Homo sapiens: one gene and its partners. The protein of the gene in region 3 purifies or fractionates together with the protein of the main gene of each other region. This does not show direct contact. Each region holds a gene or a part of one and is shown on either strand. Other genes may lie near its edges.

The links. Proteins that work in one complex are often made in the same cells at the same time.
Region 1: the proteins of GAS2L1 (region 3) and GNB1L purify together in Homo sapiens (affinity purification with mass spectrometry; 3 studies listed by BioGRID and IntAct, with this or other methods). This does not show direct contact.
Region 2: the proteins of GAS2L1 (region 3) and PRMT8 purify together in Homo sapiens (co-immunoprecipitation; one large-scale study listed by IntAct). This does not show direct contact.
Region 4: the proteins of GAS2L1 (region 3) and LRRFIP1 purify together in Homo sapiens (affinity purification with mass spectrometry; 2 studies listed by BioGRID and IntAct, with this or other methods). This does not show direct contact.

The regions. Positions count from the first base shown.
Region 1 is NC_000022.11:19,820,375-19,823,874, reverse strand, and holds part of GNB1L (guanine nucleotide-binding protein subunit beta-like protein 1), read left to right. Parts: intron 1-2,499; 5' UTR 2,500-2,519; coding exon 2,520-2,647; intron 2,648-3,151; coding exon 3,152-3,277; intron 3,278-3,500. UniProt on the Homo sapiens protein: Acts as a critical regulator of DNA damage response (DDR) signaling via specifically regulating phosphatidylinositol 3-kinase-related protein kinase (PIKK) family proteins.
Region 2 is NC_000012.12:3,497,703-3,501,202, forward strand, and holds part of PRMT8 (protein arginine N-methyltransferase 8), read left to right. Parts: intron 1-3,500. UniProt on the Homo sapiens protein: S-adenosyl-L-methionine-dependent and membrane-associated arginine methyltransferase that can both catalyze the formation of omega-N monomethylarginine (MMA) and asymmetrical dimethylarginine (aDMA) in proteins such as NIFK, myelin basic protein, histone H4, H2A and H2A/H2B dimer.
Region 3 is NC_000022.11:29,305,314-29,309,449, forward strand, and holds the start of GAS2L1 (GAS2-like protein 1), read left to right. Parts: upstream 1-1,336; 5' UTR 1,337-1,840; exon of another isoform or gene 1,841-2,773; 5' UTR 2,774-2,792; coding exon 2,793-3,425; intron 3,426-4,136. UniProt on the Homo sapiens protein: Involved in the cross-linking of microtubules and microfilaments. Regulates microtubule dynamics and stability by interacting with microtubule plus-end tracking proteins, such as MAPRE1, to regulate microtubule growth along actin stress fibers.
Region 4 is NC_000002.12:237,634,087-237,637,586, forward strand, and holds part of LRRFIP1 (leucine-rich repeat flightless-interacting protein 1), read left to right. Parts: intron 1-3,500.

The DNA of each region.
Region 1 (3,500 bases), 9.5 Mb from region 3:
GTGTCTGAGTCTGCGTGTGTGTATGTGTATGTAGGTATGAGTGTGTGCCTGTGTGTGTGCATGTGTGTGTGTGCACATATGGGTGTGTGAACATGTATGTGTAGGCATGTGTCCTATGTGTGGGTTTTGCATGTGTCTGTGTGCACCATGTGCATGTGTGTGTATGTGTGAGCATAGCGTGTGTCTAATGTGTGTTCGTGCCTGGACTGCACAGGGGAGCCTGTGTAGAGGTGACCTGTCAGGCTCTGCTTCCTGGACTGGAGTCATGGGAGGGACCCTCCATCCTGGACTCGGTGCTTTCCTGCTAGGTGGAGGTGCTTTTGCCGGGTCTGCATTCTTTGGCTCCTCTTGGAGCTGGGCCCTGCCTTCCTGTCCCCCTGGCTAGCTTGCCTTTCTTACCTGGCAGGCATAGCACAAACAGGCAGTGGCTTCTGAGAACTGTCCTCCAAGCCAGCCCGCTGAGGGCAGCTGTTCCAGCCCCCGGCCTGGCTGCGTCTTCAGGAGTCTTGGAGTCTTCCCCATCACAGGCTGGAGCAGGGGCCGTGGGTCTTGGGAGCAGTGTGGGGTCTGGTCCCTCTGCCTCCCCTGGAAGCCACCCTTAAGTTTGGGCATGATCAGTTGGCTTTCAGCCAAAGGTGAGAGAGGACGAAACCTCTCTCATCCCCCTCAAAAAAGAAAAGGAAAAATGGGACTTGGCAGTTAGTAAAGGATATCCCAGGGAACTCCGCATTGTCTTCGGAACCCCTTGAGAGAGGCAGGGTTGGGAGGTAGAGTGGCTGCCCGAGGTCTCTCGCCAGGCAGGGTGGACCTGCGCCCTGGAGTCACTGCCCGGCCCCTCCCAGGCCTCCTGCCCTCCCCCATGCCGCCCGCTTGGGCACTGGCTGCTGTCCACCCTCCACTCTGCAGGACACCTTGGCAGGGGCATTTCTCAGGTGTTTTGAACCTTTGCCCCAGCTCTGAATAGAGTAAGGAGAGGGCTGGCGTGTATTCAGAAGGGGAGAGGCAGGGCTTGGCGGTGGCAGTGCTGCTGAAGGGGCACCCTGGACAGCTGCCTCCAGACATCCACAGCACTCCTGCCTCTGAACCTGCACCCCCATCCGCCTACCACCCAGCCCCTTCTGAAGAGTCCTTCCCATCTCCCCTGCCCTGGTCCTTTACTGGCCCCAGTCCCTCTGCTGGCTGTGGCTGCCGTGGGCCATCCTCCCTGCCTTGTGTGCAGGCTGCAGGTGGCTGGGCCGGGGCCTGCCCCACTGTCCCAGAGCCCAGTGGGAAAGGCCCCCTGTGACAGGCTGCCCCAGCCACCCAGTGGTCTGCTCCTGGCCTTTCCCTCTGAGCCCTTAGCCCAGCTCAGGGTCTGCAGGCAGACAGACATGGAGCTGGTCGCTTCTGGCTCCAGGGCCACCCCACAGAGCAGCCAGCTGTGGGGCTGAGGTGGAGTGCGAGGCCCTGTGGGTCTGAGTGGTTGGAAGGGCTCGGCACGGACCCGGGAAGCCTCTCTGGGTGGGTGGTGGCCCGGCAGTCTTCCCCCACAGGCCCAGTGGTCTGGGGAACAGCTGCTCATCTGTGACCGCAGCTCTCCTAAGGAGCCGCACGGCGACTCTGCCCCAGCCACTCTGCCCTTCAGTGGTGCCATGAGGCCCTAGAGTACTTCAGGCCTCAGCGCCAGGGGCCTGGTGCAGCTCAGTGACTATTCTCTGCCTCGGTTTCCCCAAGAGTGAAAAGGGTGCTGCCGCCTTATAGGGTGGTGATAGCGGTTAGAAATTGTGGCGGGGCAGGCCTGGGGCCCAGCAGATGTGAGAGGAAGGCTCCTCCTAGCAGCCCCCCGGGACCCTGTGTGCCTCTTTTCCCCTGATCCCTGAGCTGGCCATGGGCAGAGGTGGCAGCAGGGAGGAGAGAAGAAGGGAGACTGGATTTGCCAGCAGGGAGGGAGGGTGGCTCCCAAGAGAGACACTGGAGTGAGCCCTGGACAGAGGGCGGGACTCAGCCAAGCCCAGTGGCAGGACCGGCAGTCCCGGCATGCAGATGGCCAGAGTGGGAAAGCACTGGTGTGGCCCCTGGGATCTGGGGAGCCAGAGGGCACAGCCAGTGGTGGACAGGAAGCCCTGGAGGCCAGAGTGGCCGAGGAAGTGTTGGATGCCGCTGTGCCCACTCAGGGATGGCTCAGGTGGGGCCCAAGCGGGTGCACCAGTCAGGTGCAGAGGCCAACAGGCACGGTGCGAGGAGGGCTGGCATCCATGGGGCTCCCAGTTCCCCCAGCAGTGGGGGAAGGGTGAGCTCTGTGCTCTCTGCTGGGCTCACCGCCGTGCAGGGAACTGGTGCCTCTGTAGCCACAGGCCGTTCATCAGTGTCTGGGGAGCAGTGGCACCTCTCTCCCAGGAGGGGCACAGGGCCAGAGACAATGAGCAGGGGCAACATCTCAAGCACCCCTGTGCCTGAGCAGCCTTCCTAGAGGGTGAGAATAGGGACGCAGTCACTCACACGCCCTCCCTTGGTGCCCAGGTAACTGCATCCTGCCCAGCATGACGGCCCCCTGCCCGCCGCCACCTCCAGACCCCCAGTTTGTCCTCCGAGGCACCCAGTCACCGGTGCATGCGCTGCACTTCTGCGAAGGAGCCCAGGCTCAGGGGCGCCCGCTCCTCTTCTCAGGGTGAGTAGCTGTGGCCCCAGCCCCAGGCCACCCAGGGCCAAGTCAGGAGGTCGTGAGCTAGCAAGGAGCCCAGCGCTTGTTTGAGGGTGCTGGCCAAGGGGCATGGACTGCTCGCCACCCAGGCTTGCTGAGCTTTCAGCACCCACCAGCAGACACACTGTCCCTTGGGGGAGGCAGGGACACACACACACACTCTTTGTTACAGACGCAGGAGCAGGCACGACCACCCAGCGTGCATTACTGTGGCATGGCTCCCCCTACCTCCAGAGAAGCAGATCTGCCTGAGTTACCCCTAGAGGCTCCTGAGGGTCCCCCGGTCCCCTCTCTGGAAGAGGAGCAAGGAGTGCTTTGCCAGTTTGGCCCTTAGTTCATATTTAGAGCTGTTGGCTTTTCAGCTCAACCAGCCTAGATGCCCGCATCCCACAATGTGGCCTCCAGGCTGGCCCCAGAGCATTCAGCACACCCTTCTGCCCCCTGACACCCTGCTCGGCTTGTCTGAAACAGGTCTCAGAGTGGCCTGGTACACATCTGGAGCCTGCAGACGCGGAGAGCGGTTACCACCCTGGATGGCCACGGCGGCCAGTGTGTGACCTGGCTGCAGACGCTGCCCCAGGGGCGCCAGCTCCTCAGGTGGGTCTCCAAGGTGCAGGAGCCAGGTATGGCCTTCGGGGGAGTCAGGAACTCTCTGATGGAGGCTCTGGTGTCCCCCACTGAGGGGCAGAATGGGGTGGGGGAACCAGAAGGGGCCAGCAAAGGGTCCGCAGCAAGGGCAGGGTGTGCAGGTCCAGCCCCTTGTCACAGGGAGGCAGGCAGGTCTGCCTCTGCATCTCCACCATCTCCACTGGACCCTTCA
Region 2 (3,500 bases), on a different chromosome or scaffold from region 3:
TCACTTGTTATAAGAATTCCCTCAAGCATCACAGTTTTTCCCATATTTGTAATGAGTGGCCCATAAGTAAAGATCTCTTTTTAAAGTGTAATTTTATATTGAGCAAACAGCTTGATGTGCGTATTTTCATAAAGTCATAGAATGTTAAAGTTGGGTGGAAACTCAAATCACTTAAGTCAGGAGATAGGAACTACTTGTCCAATATCACAGAGCTCTTCCGTGTTGGGGTCAAGATCCTGTGGACTCCTGGGTCTGTGCTCTTTATACCTCCTTTAAACGTAGCATCTCATTTATTGTTTTTATTTTTTGTGCCAACTTTCTGGTATATCCTGATCTGTACTGTCTAAGACCAGTGTTTCTCTGCATAAGGTCTAGGAATTGTGCATAGTGAGAGCTCTGACCTTCTTGTAGAACTTAAAATGCTCGCTTATTACATTGCATTGTGTGCAATGCTGTGAATTACATATATCCCCATTGTATGGATTAATAAACTGAAGCACAGAGAGTTACTGTTATTTGCTCAAAATCCCACAGCTGGTAAGTGATGAGGCTAGAGCTCAAAGTCTGGTTTTCTAATCACCAAAATGCTTTTTCTAGTCCGCTAGGCTGCGAAGGCATGAGAAGAACCAGAGTACAAACTTAAAATGTGAAGAGAAAGGGTGGAGAAATTAACAGCAGGAATGTGGAATGGTGAATTTGGAAGAAGCCTAGGAAGAGACACCAGCCCAGCTTTCCTTTTTCCAGGACGTCTTTTCTTGCTTCCACCGCCATCTTGCCATCCTCACTTTCACAGTCTCCAGTACTGTGCCGTGTGAGTGACAGGGGCCTGACATAATTGTGGCAGGGACAGCCATCACCTCACTCTCCCTGCGCATCTAAACTATCCCTAGGCGTGGGTTCCTAGCTGGACCCAGTAGACAATGTACTTGTCTAACAAAGTATAGCTCTTCGGAAGCTTGACCCTAGGCCATCAATATTAGATCTGGACTCTCATCCAGCTACTTTATTGGGATAAAATGAATACTAAAGTCTCCAGGACAGGAACTTTGTTTCTTAAAATTTATCTTTGTAGTTTCATCACCTGTATTACCCTCCTAGGTCTGCTGTAATAAAGTACCACAAACTGGGTGGCTTTAAAACAACGAGATGTCTTCTTCCACAGTTCTGGAAGCCAGAAGTCTGAAATCCAGATGCCAGCAGGGTTGGTTCCTCTTGAAGTCTTCATGGAGAATCTGTTCCTTGCCTTTCTTCTGGTTTCCCGTGGTGGCCAACGATGCTCAGCCTTCCTTGGCTATAGACACATCATCTGGTCTCTGCCTTCATCTTCACAGGGCATTCTTTCCTGTGTGTGTCTATACGTCTTCTTATAAGGACAACAGTCTTGTTGGATTAGGGGCCACTCTAATCCAATATGACTTCATCTTAACTTGATAACATCTGCAAAGACCCTATTTTTATTTTTATTTATTTATTTATTTTTTTTTTCCTTTCTTTTTTTTTTTTTTTATTATACTCTAAGTTTTAGGGTACATGTGCACATTGTGCAGGTTAGTTACATATGTATACATGTGCCATGCTGGTGCACTGCACCCACTAATGTGTCATCTAGCATTAGGTATATCTCCCAATGCTATCCCTCCCCCCTCCCCCCGACCCCACCACAGTCCCCAGAGTGTGATATTCCCCTTCCTGTGTCCATGTGATCTCATTGTTCAATTCCCACCTATGAGTGAGAATATGCGGTGTTAGGTTTTTTGTTCTTGCGATAGTTTACTGAGAATGATGGTTTCCAATTTCATCCATGTCCCTACAAAGGATATGAACTCATCATTTTTTATGGCTGCATAGTATTCCATGGTGTATATGTGCCACATTTTCTTAATCCAGTCTATCATTGTTGGACATTTGGGTTGGTTCCAAGTCTTTGCTATTGTGAATAGTGCCGCAATAAACATACGTGTGCATGTGTCTTTATAGCAGCATGATTTATAGTCCTTTGGGTATATACCCAGTAATGGGATGGCTGGGTCAAATGGTATTTCTAGTTCTAGATCCCTGAGGAATCGCCACACTGACTTCCACAATGGTTGAACTAGTTTACAGTCCCACCAACAGTGTAAAAGTGTTCCTATTTCTCCACATCCTCTCCAGCACCTGTTGTTTCCTGACTTTTTAATGATTGCCATTCTAACTGGTGTGAGATGATATCTCATAGTGGTTTTGATTTGCATTTCTCTGATGGCCAGTGATGATGAGCATTTCTTCATGTGTTTTTTGGCTGCATAAATGTCTTCTTTTGAGAAGTGTCTGTTCATGTCCTTCGCCCACTTTTTGATGGGGTTGTTTGTTTTTTTCTTGTAAATTTGTTTGAGTTCATTGTAGATTCTGGATATTAGCCCTTTGTCAGATGAGTAGGTTGCGAAAATTTTCTCCCATGTTGTAGGTTGCCTGTTCACTCTGATGGTAGTTTCTTTTGCTGTGCAGAAGCTCTTTAGTTTAATTAGATCCCATTTGTCAATTTTGGCTTTTGTTGCCATTGCTTTTGGTGTTTTGGACATGAAGTCCTTGCCCACGCCTATGTCCTGAATGGTAATGCCTAGGTTTTCTTCTAGGGTTTTTATGGTTTTAGGTCTAACGTTTAAATCTTTAATCCATCTTGAATTGATTTTTGTATAAGGTGTAAGGAAGGGATCCAGTTTCAGCTTTCTACATATGGCTAGCCAGTTTTCCCAGCACCATTTATTAAATAGGGAATCCTTTCCCCATTGCTTGTTTTTCTCAGGTTTGTCAAAGATCAGATAGTTGTAGATATGCGGCATTATTTCTGAGGGCTCTGTTCTGTTCCATTGATCTATATCTCTGTTTTGGTACCAGTACCATGCTGTTTTGGTTACTGTAGCCTTGTAGTATAGTTTGAAGTCAGGTAGTGTGATGCCTCCAGCTTTGTTCTTTTGGCTTAGGATTGACTTGGCGATGCGGGCTCTTTTTTGGTTCCATATGAACTTTAAAGTAGTTTTTTCCAATTCTGTGAAGAAAGTCATTGGTAGCTTGATGGGGATGGCATTGAATCTGTAAATTACCTTGGGCAGTATGGCCATTTTCACGATATTGATTCTTCCTACCCATGAGCATGGAATGTTCTTCCATTTGTTTGTGTCCTCTTTTATTTCCTTGAGCAGTGGTTTGTAGTTCTCCTTGAAGAGGTCCTTCACATCCCTTGTAAGTTGGATTCCTAGGTATTTTATTCTCTTTGAAGCAATTGTGAATGGGAGTTCACCCATGATTTGGCTCTCTGTTTGTCTGTTGTTGGTGTATAAGAATGCTTGTGATTTTTGTACATTGATTTTGTATCCTGAGACTTTGCTGAAGTTGCTTATCAGCTTAAGGAGATTTTGGGCTGAGACGATGGGGTTTTCTAGATAAACAATCATGTCGTCTGCAAACAGGGACAATTTGACTTCCTCTTTTCCTAATTGAATACCCTTTATTTCCTTCTCCTG
Region 3 (4,136 bases):
CTCACTTCCTTTCCTGATGAGGGATTTTAAATTGCAGCCCCCTCACACCCACACCCTCACCCGGCTCCATCCCTGTCTTCTCTGCACCTCATCCCTGTCTCTGCCCTGGGGCTGCCTCCCTGCCAGACTTGGACAACAGGCCCTGAGAGCTGGCTCTGCTTGGTTCCCTGCTGTTTTGCTGTTGATTTCCAGTGCCCAAAGAGACCCAGCACACAGTAGGTGCCACGCAGGTGTCAGCCTTGAGGATTGCTAGTTACTGCCTTCCTCACTGGAGGAAGTGCCATGGGGGGCGCTGAGGTGAGAAAACGCCTTTGAAAAGGTCACACAGGCCAGGCAAGTGGCTCACACCTGTAATCCCAGCCCTTTGGGAGGTGGAGGCGGGCAGATCACCTTAGGTCAGGAGTTCGAGACCAACCTGGCCAACATGGTGAACTTGTCTCTACTAAAAATACAAAAAGCCGGGCGTGGTGGCAGGTATCAGTAATCCCAGCTACTCGGGAGGCTGAGGCAGGAGAATCGCTTGAACCCCGGAGGTAGAGGTTGCAATGAGCCCAGATCCAGCCACTGTACTCCAGCCTGAGCGACAGAGCGAGACAAAAAAAAAAAAAAAAAAAAAAAGGAAGAAAATAAAAAAGAAAAGGTCACAAGGACTCTCTGGGATGCCTGTGAATGCCTGGCACCAAGAGGCCTGGCTCACAGGTGCTCAACCAATGCTGCTGATCCGTGGATGAGGGCGTCCCCATAATCGTCATGTTCAAATCCTGGCTCCACCAGCTGCTCTCCTGACTGTGCCCCAGTTGGGCATGAGTGTCCTTCACAGAGGTGACACACCAGTTCATTCAGGTCAAGGGCGCAGAGCAGTCCTGGCAGCACACAGTAGGAGATTTATTGGAGCTCTGAGCCTGGCTGTGGTTGGCGGCTTCCCTGCAGGCCTGCCCCACCCGTGTAGCATGGCTGCCGCCCAGACCCGCCCGACGTCCCGCCCAGCCCAGCCGGCAGCAGCAGGGGGCAGGATTTCCCGCTGATCCCGGCGGTCCGTCCTCTGCAGTTTAAAAAGAGCCCAGCGGGGCTTAACCCTCCCGCGTCCGGCCGGCCTCCGATGCCCCCCGTCCCCTGTTCTGTGCGGAACTCCGGCTTTGGCCATCTGCCTACTTCTCTGAGCTTCAGTATCCTCATCTGTAAAACCGGTTCCCCTCATTTCAGGGTCAAAAATGAGCATTCAGTGAGCACAAGGAGCCCTCAGTCGCCAGGGGCATCCTCCCCCTCCCCGCGGCGGTGCCGTTTATCTGGCCAGGGGAGGTCCACCCGGGAGGAGGTGACTTTGCAGCCTCCAGCCGCTATCGCTTCCTGCCTTCATCTTGGGAACAGGCCGTGCTGTGCGCCAGCCCGGGGAGCCCACCGTCTGGGGAGGGGGGCGATTAAAAGGTCCCAACCTCCTCCCCAGGAGACCAAAGAGGTTGGACGGGGCCCCGGGTACTAGGCTGGGTGGGGGTTGGGCGCCTGGGCCGGTCGCAGTTGTCTGGGGGCCCTGGGGCTCTCTGCGTCGAGAGCGCTCGAAGACCCGGGATTCCTGGCCCGATCGCGGGCGGGGGGAGACCCCAGCTCCACCCCAGCTCCCGCCGGCTCGGGGAAGGGGCGGCCCCTTTAAGAGCGCGCGGCCCCGCCCGCCCCCTCCGGGCAGGATCCGAATTCCAGGGAGGCGGGGCGGAGACGGCGGCGAGGAGGAGGCCGCGGCGCGGGACGCATAGAGCTGCGGCTCGGGCGGCGCCTCCCTGCGGCGGCCCGGCCCGGCTCCGGCCCCCGCTGGGGCAATGCTCCCCGGGGCCGCGGGATGAGCCAGGTGAGCGCGGAGACCCCCAGCACTCCCTGCCTGGTGCGCATGGACGGGGGTGGGGAGGCGGGGCGGGAAGCGGCGTCCTCGGCCTCTGTTCCCCGGGGCTGTGTGACCTTGGGCGGCCCCGCACCCTCTCTGGGCCCAGAGCCCCAGCACCGGCAGGGCCTGCGGAGGCCGCTCTGAGTCCTGGCCCCGCAGGCACCGGCCTGGAGCGCTGGGGAGGCTTCTTGGAGGAGGCGGGGCCTGGCCCTGGCCCCGGATCGCCGAGACCGGCCACGCTGCGCCGCCTGGACGCCGGGCTCCTCCACCCACAGCTCTGCGACCTTCACGAGCTCGACCCTTTCTGCGCCTCAGTTTCCTCATCTATAAAATGGAGATAATGCCTCCGCGCGCTGAGCCCGAGCGCGGTCGTGCTGTTACACTATTGCTGCTGCTATGTCGTTAATGACGGCACAGCCCTTATGGAAGGGGGGCCAAGGAAGGCACGGGGACCTTCCCGCAGGACATGGGGTGGGCACCAGCCCTAAGCCATGCACATAACCCACTCTGAGGTCAGGACCTGGGTTCCTTTCGTGTCCACTGGGGGCCTTAGCCGTTGTCTTCACTTCTCTAGGTCCCAGCCCTTCACAATGGGCGCGCCTCCCTGCCTGAGAGGGAGGCCCCAGCCAAGCCCCAGTTTCCACCGCAAAAAGCCACACAGCAAACACTTAATGGACCCTAAATTTATAAAAATTATCCCATAGAGTCCTATGAGGCAGGGAATGTTACTGTACCCATTTCGCAGATGAGGAAACTTGGGGCACCGACATTTCCCAGAGCCAACATGTAAACCAGGCATTTGGCCTGAGTGACAGACTGGTGCAGGTGGCCAGCAGCTTAATTTGTACTGAGCGCTTACTGGGTCCCCACAGCGATCCTGAACTGTGTTCCTGCCCACAGTGACTCGGCCGGTCCGGGCATGGCAGACCCAGTGGCGGGCATCGCGGGCTCGGCGGCCAAGAGCGTGCGGCCATTTCGCTCCAGTGAGGCCTACGTGGAGGCCATGAAGGAGGACCTGGCCGAGTGGCTCAATGCCTTGTACGGCCTGGGTCTCCCGGGTGGTGGCGATGGCTTCCTGACAGGGCTGGCCACGGGCACGACCCTGTGCCAACATGCCAACGCCGTGACCGAGGCTGCCCGTGCATTGGCAGCCGCCCGCCCGGCCCGAGGTGTGGCCTTCCAGGCGCACAGTGTAGTGCCTGGCTCCTTCATGGCGCGCGACAACGTGGCCACCTTCATCGGCTGGTGCCGCGTGGAGCTGGGTGTGCCGGAGGTGCTCATGTTTGAGACTGAGGACCTGGTGCTGCGCAAGAACGAGAAGAGCGTGGTGCTGTGCCTGCTGGAGGTGGCGCGGCGTGGGGCACGCCTGGGCCTGCTGGCCCCACGCCTCGTGCAGTTTGAGCAGGAGATTGAGCGGGAGCTGCGTGCTGCACCCCCAGCCCCCAACGCCCCTGCCGCTGGGGAGGACACCACTGAAACCGCCCCCGCACCAGGGACTCCTGCCCGCGGCCCCCGCATGACACCCAGCGACCTGCGCAACCTCGACGAGCTGGTGAGTCCCCCAGCACCAGGTGCCAGGGACCCGACAGCACAGCCAGTGCCTGCAATCTGTCCCTGAACCTCCCAGGGTCCACCCTGCTATCTGCAGAACAGTCTGCCCCACAAAAAGAGTGCACATGTTGAGCACCAAACCGAGGAATGTATACCTGACCCCAAGGAAATGGGTAGCCCACAGAGAGGGAGGTGCCGGGGAGATGACGCAGCCCAGCCGGGCCTGGGACAGGATGCGGGCTCCTGGCACGATCTTCCCTCACTTTGTGTGCTAACTGTGCCTCAACTGAGCTTGTGCATTCCTTCTTCTGGGGGGCCGCATGATCGGGGCGCCTCCTCTGTGCCCTCCCTGCAGTCAGTCTTAGGCAGATGTACCCACAACCTCATGGAGGCTCGAGGTTGAGCGGGTGCTGTGATGCTCGGTTGAGACGAGGCATGGAAAAACCTGGGCAAGGTGCCTGGCACACAGTAGGTGCCCCAGGGGGCTCTGCAGGTCTCCCCACTCCCCAGGCACCCCTGGGAAGCCTAGCTGGGTTGCTGCTGTTGCTGGGAGCAGGGATCCTGTTTGGAATTACAGGATTCGTTCTACTCTAAGCATAGGCGTTGCTGGGCCCTGCCCCCAAGTCTCTCCTCTCCCAGGATCTGGGTGGCCCCTGCCACCCCTGAGGGCTGGACCAAGAGTTTCCTTCTTATCAGAAGGTCAGGACTACAA
Region 4 (3,500 bases), on a different chromosome or scaffold from region 3:
TCCTTTTAAAATATGTCAGATCATGCCACTTCTCTGATAAAAACTTTCCAAGGGTGTCTTGTATCACTCCGTAAAACCCAAGTCCTTAAACAAGCTACAAGACCCTCAATGATCTGGTAATGATCTCCTTGTTTATAAATAACATACATATGTATTACACATTAGTTTATCAATTGCAGATGCTGTCAGCTGGCTCCTGCATTGAAGGACGGGACTTGGTGTGCATGGGCCCAGTTCAGGCCAGCTCCCTACTTTCCTTCTCTGCATCACACTATAGTTCATTGTAGTGTGGGGCTAAATGAATATTCACTGGCAGGACAGACTGCTTAAGAATATGGGTGCTAGAATCAGATTTCCTGGGTTCAAATCCTGATTCTGTCCCTTATACCATGACTTAGGGCAAGTTACTTATCAACTTTGTGCCTCAGTTCCCCCATAGGTAAGATGGGAAAGTTTTAGGAGTATACTTCACCCAGGGCAGTTATGAGGGTAAATGAGATCTTTCACAAAAAGACCTCTGAACAATGACTGTCACATAGTAAATGCTCAGTAAATGCTGGTGATGATGATGATCTTGCCAGCTGTGTAAATAATGTCAATTGCAGAGCCAAGCAGTGTACTATAATCTTTCTTTCCTTATACAACTTTCTGCTTCTTCTAGAGTTAATGATTTATTTTCTTTTTCATTGCTCATCTGCCTACATATCTAGCTTATCTATCTATATATCTACATATCTCCATAAAGTTTTCAATAGAACCCATCAAAATGCTATGTTCTATATGATTAAACAAAGCAGATAATCTATCAATTCCATTTTATTCTCCCATGGAAATCTACCCACTAGAGACCTCTGTCCTCTAGATCCAGTCTGGTCTGGATGTTCTCCTCAGGGTTTCCTGCACCTGCCATTCCCTCTGCCACCATTCTGAGAATTTCTTTTACCCCCTTTTTATTGTTGTTGTTAGGTCCCTATTTTCTGGATTCCATATTATCTGCCTTCTTGGATTGCTGTCTTATTTTGCTGGAACACATCCTTCAGTAGCTTTCGGAGCAAGAATGCCTTTTCTAAGTATTCACATGTCTGAAAATGTCTTTATTCTACATTCATACTTGATTGATACTTTGGTTGTGTATAGAGTTCTAGGTTAAAAATAATTTTCCAAAAAATGATGAACTCTGTGTCTTCTTTGACATAATTTCCAGTAAGTATTGTTAATTGGAAAAAGTAATATACAGAAAATAAAGATAGCATGCTGTTCCTTGTGTGAGAAAGGCTGCAATTTTCCTGCATTTGAATAAAAATCACTGGCAGAACACAATGAAAGGAGTGTGGGGATGGAGGTGGAAGCAGGTTGTCAAGTGCCACTCTTCATGCTCTTGATATTTGAACCATGTGACTGTATTAACTAGTCAATAAAATAAACTAATAAATATCAAAAAAGTAAAATTAGGAGCCAGGCATTATGGCTCACACCTGTAATTCCAGCAACTCAGGAGGCTAAGGTGAAAGAATAGCTTAGGACCAAGAGTTCAAGTCCAGCTTGGGCAACAAAGTAGGACCCTTCCTTTAAAAATATATTTTTTTTATTTAGCTGGGCATGGTGATGCATGCCTGTAGTCCTAGCTATTTGGGAATCTGAGGCAGGAGCATCGCTTAAGCCCAGGAGTTCAAGACCAGCCTGGGCAACATAGTGAGACCCCCATCTCCACAAAAAAGAAAAGAAAAAGTGAGTGGGTGTGGTGGCTCATACCTGTAATTCCAACAATTTGGGAGGGCAGTGAGTGGATCACTTGAGCTCAGGAGTTTGAGACCAGTCTGGGCAACATGGTGAAATCCCTTCTGTACTAAAAATACAAAAATTAGCCAAGCATGATGGCTTGTGCCTATGGTCCCAGCTAGTTGGGAGGCTGAGGTGGGAGGATCACTTGAGCCCAGGGGACAGAGGTTGCAGTGAGCTGAGATCACACCCCTGCACTCCAGCCTGGGTTGACAGAGCAAAACTCTGTCTCAAAAAAAAAAAAAAAAAATTTAAAAGAAAAAGTTTGGAAACTTTTAGGATCTTCTCTTTATTCTCAGAATTCTGGATTTTTCCCCCACTTATTGAGCATTCATTGGGTTCATTCAATCTGGAAACTTGTATCCTAAAATTCTGGGAAATTTTCTTGAATTTTTTCCTAGCCCCATCATTTTTTCTGTTCTGTCTTACAGTAATTTCTGTAAGACAGAACAGAAAAAGAAGTAATTTTTCATTTTCCTTTCTTTTCTTTTTTTTTTTTTTTTGTCTTTTGGTAATACTTCAAGGAAGATTCTTCAACTTTACCATCCACTCCCTCTACTAAGTTTACCTGTTTTATATTGAATTGCTAAGTTTTTTTATTGTTCTTTATCTCTATAGCATCCTTTCTTGACTCACTAATGCAGTACCTTTTCTTACTACTCTAAGGATATTAAGCAAATTCACTTAATTTGGGGGTTTTCCTGAAAATTTTTTTGTTCCCTGCATCCTGGTCTGTTTCTTTTCCTCCTTTGTGTGTTTTGGCCTCTGTCATCTTGGAGCCTTTCTCAGATGTGTGGTGATCCTCAGCTACCCTTTCATATTTTAGAGGGAGGCACTAAACATGGTGACTACAATTTGAGCAAAGGCCAGGAAGAGAGATGTCACAAAGTGTGAACAGGAAGCCACACAGGGCGGCTGAAGTGTTGGTACCAGACAGTGGTTCCTCAGGCAGGGGCAAGCAGCTCTGATTTGAACCCAGTCTCTTGCCTTTGAGGCCAGTGCCCTTGACCACCATGTCAGTGTTAGGAGGAAACATTGCTTAATGTTAACCAGTCAGACTTCTCTAATTTGGTGCCTGCAGGTGGAGTTTTGTTTTTGATTAAGGGACTAGTAAGGCTGGAAAAGAAAGTTGAAAATTAATCTGAGACATACACCAGGGAAGAACGGCTAACCTCTAGTGTCTACACAGCTCAAACAAAGGAACCCATCATTATGGTATTCTTTTACTGAGAGCGAAATAAAATGTCAAATTAGCTGAGCAAATAAAGATAGTAAAACAAAAAAATATGAGATTTTCATAGCTTCAGGCATCAAGAATTGGGCTGGGCATGGTGTCTTGTGCCTGTAATCCCAGCACTTTGGGAGACCAAGGCGGGTGGATCACCTGAGGTCAGATGTTTGAGACCAGCCTAACCAATATGGTGAAACCCCATCTCTACTAAAAATACAGAAATTAGCCAGATGTGGTGGCTTGCACCTGTAGTCTCAGCTACTCGGGGGGCTGAGGCAGGAGAATTGCTTGAACCCAGGAGGCAGAGGTTGCAGTGAGCCAAGATCACACCACTGCACGCCATCCTGGGCAGCAGAGCGAGACTCCATCTCAAAAAGAGAAAAAGAAGAAGACAAAAAGCAAAGGAATAATTCATTTATTTGCTTGGAAAGTTCTCTAAGATCTGAGATATACTTTCCATAAAACAAATAAAATACCTGGAGAGTTTAGG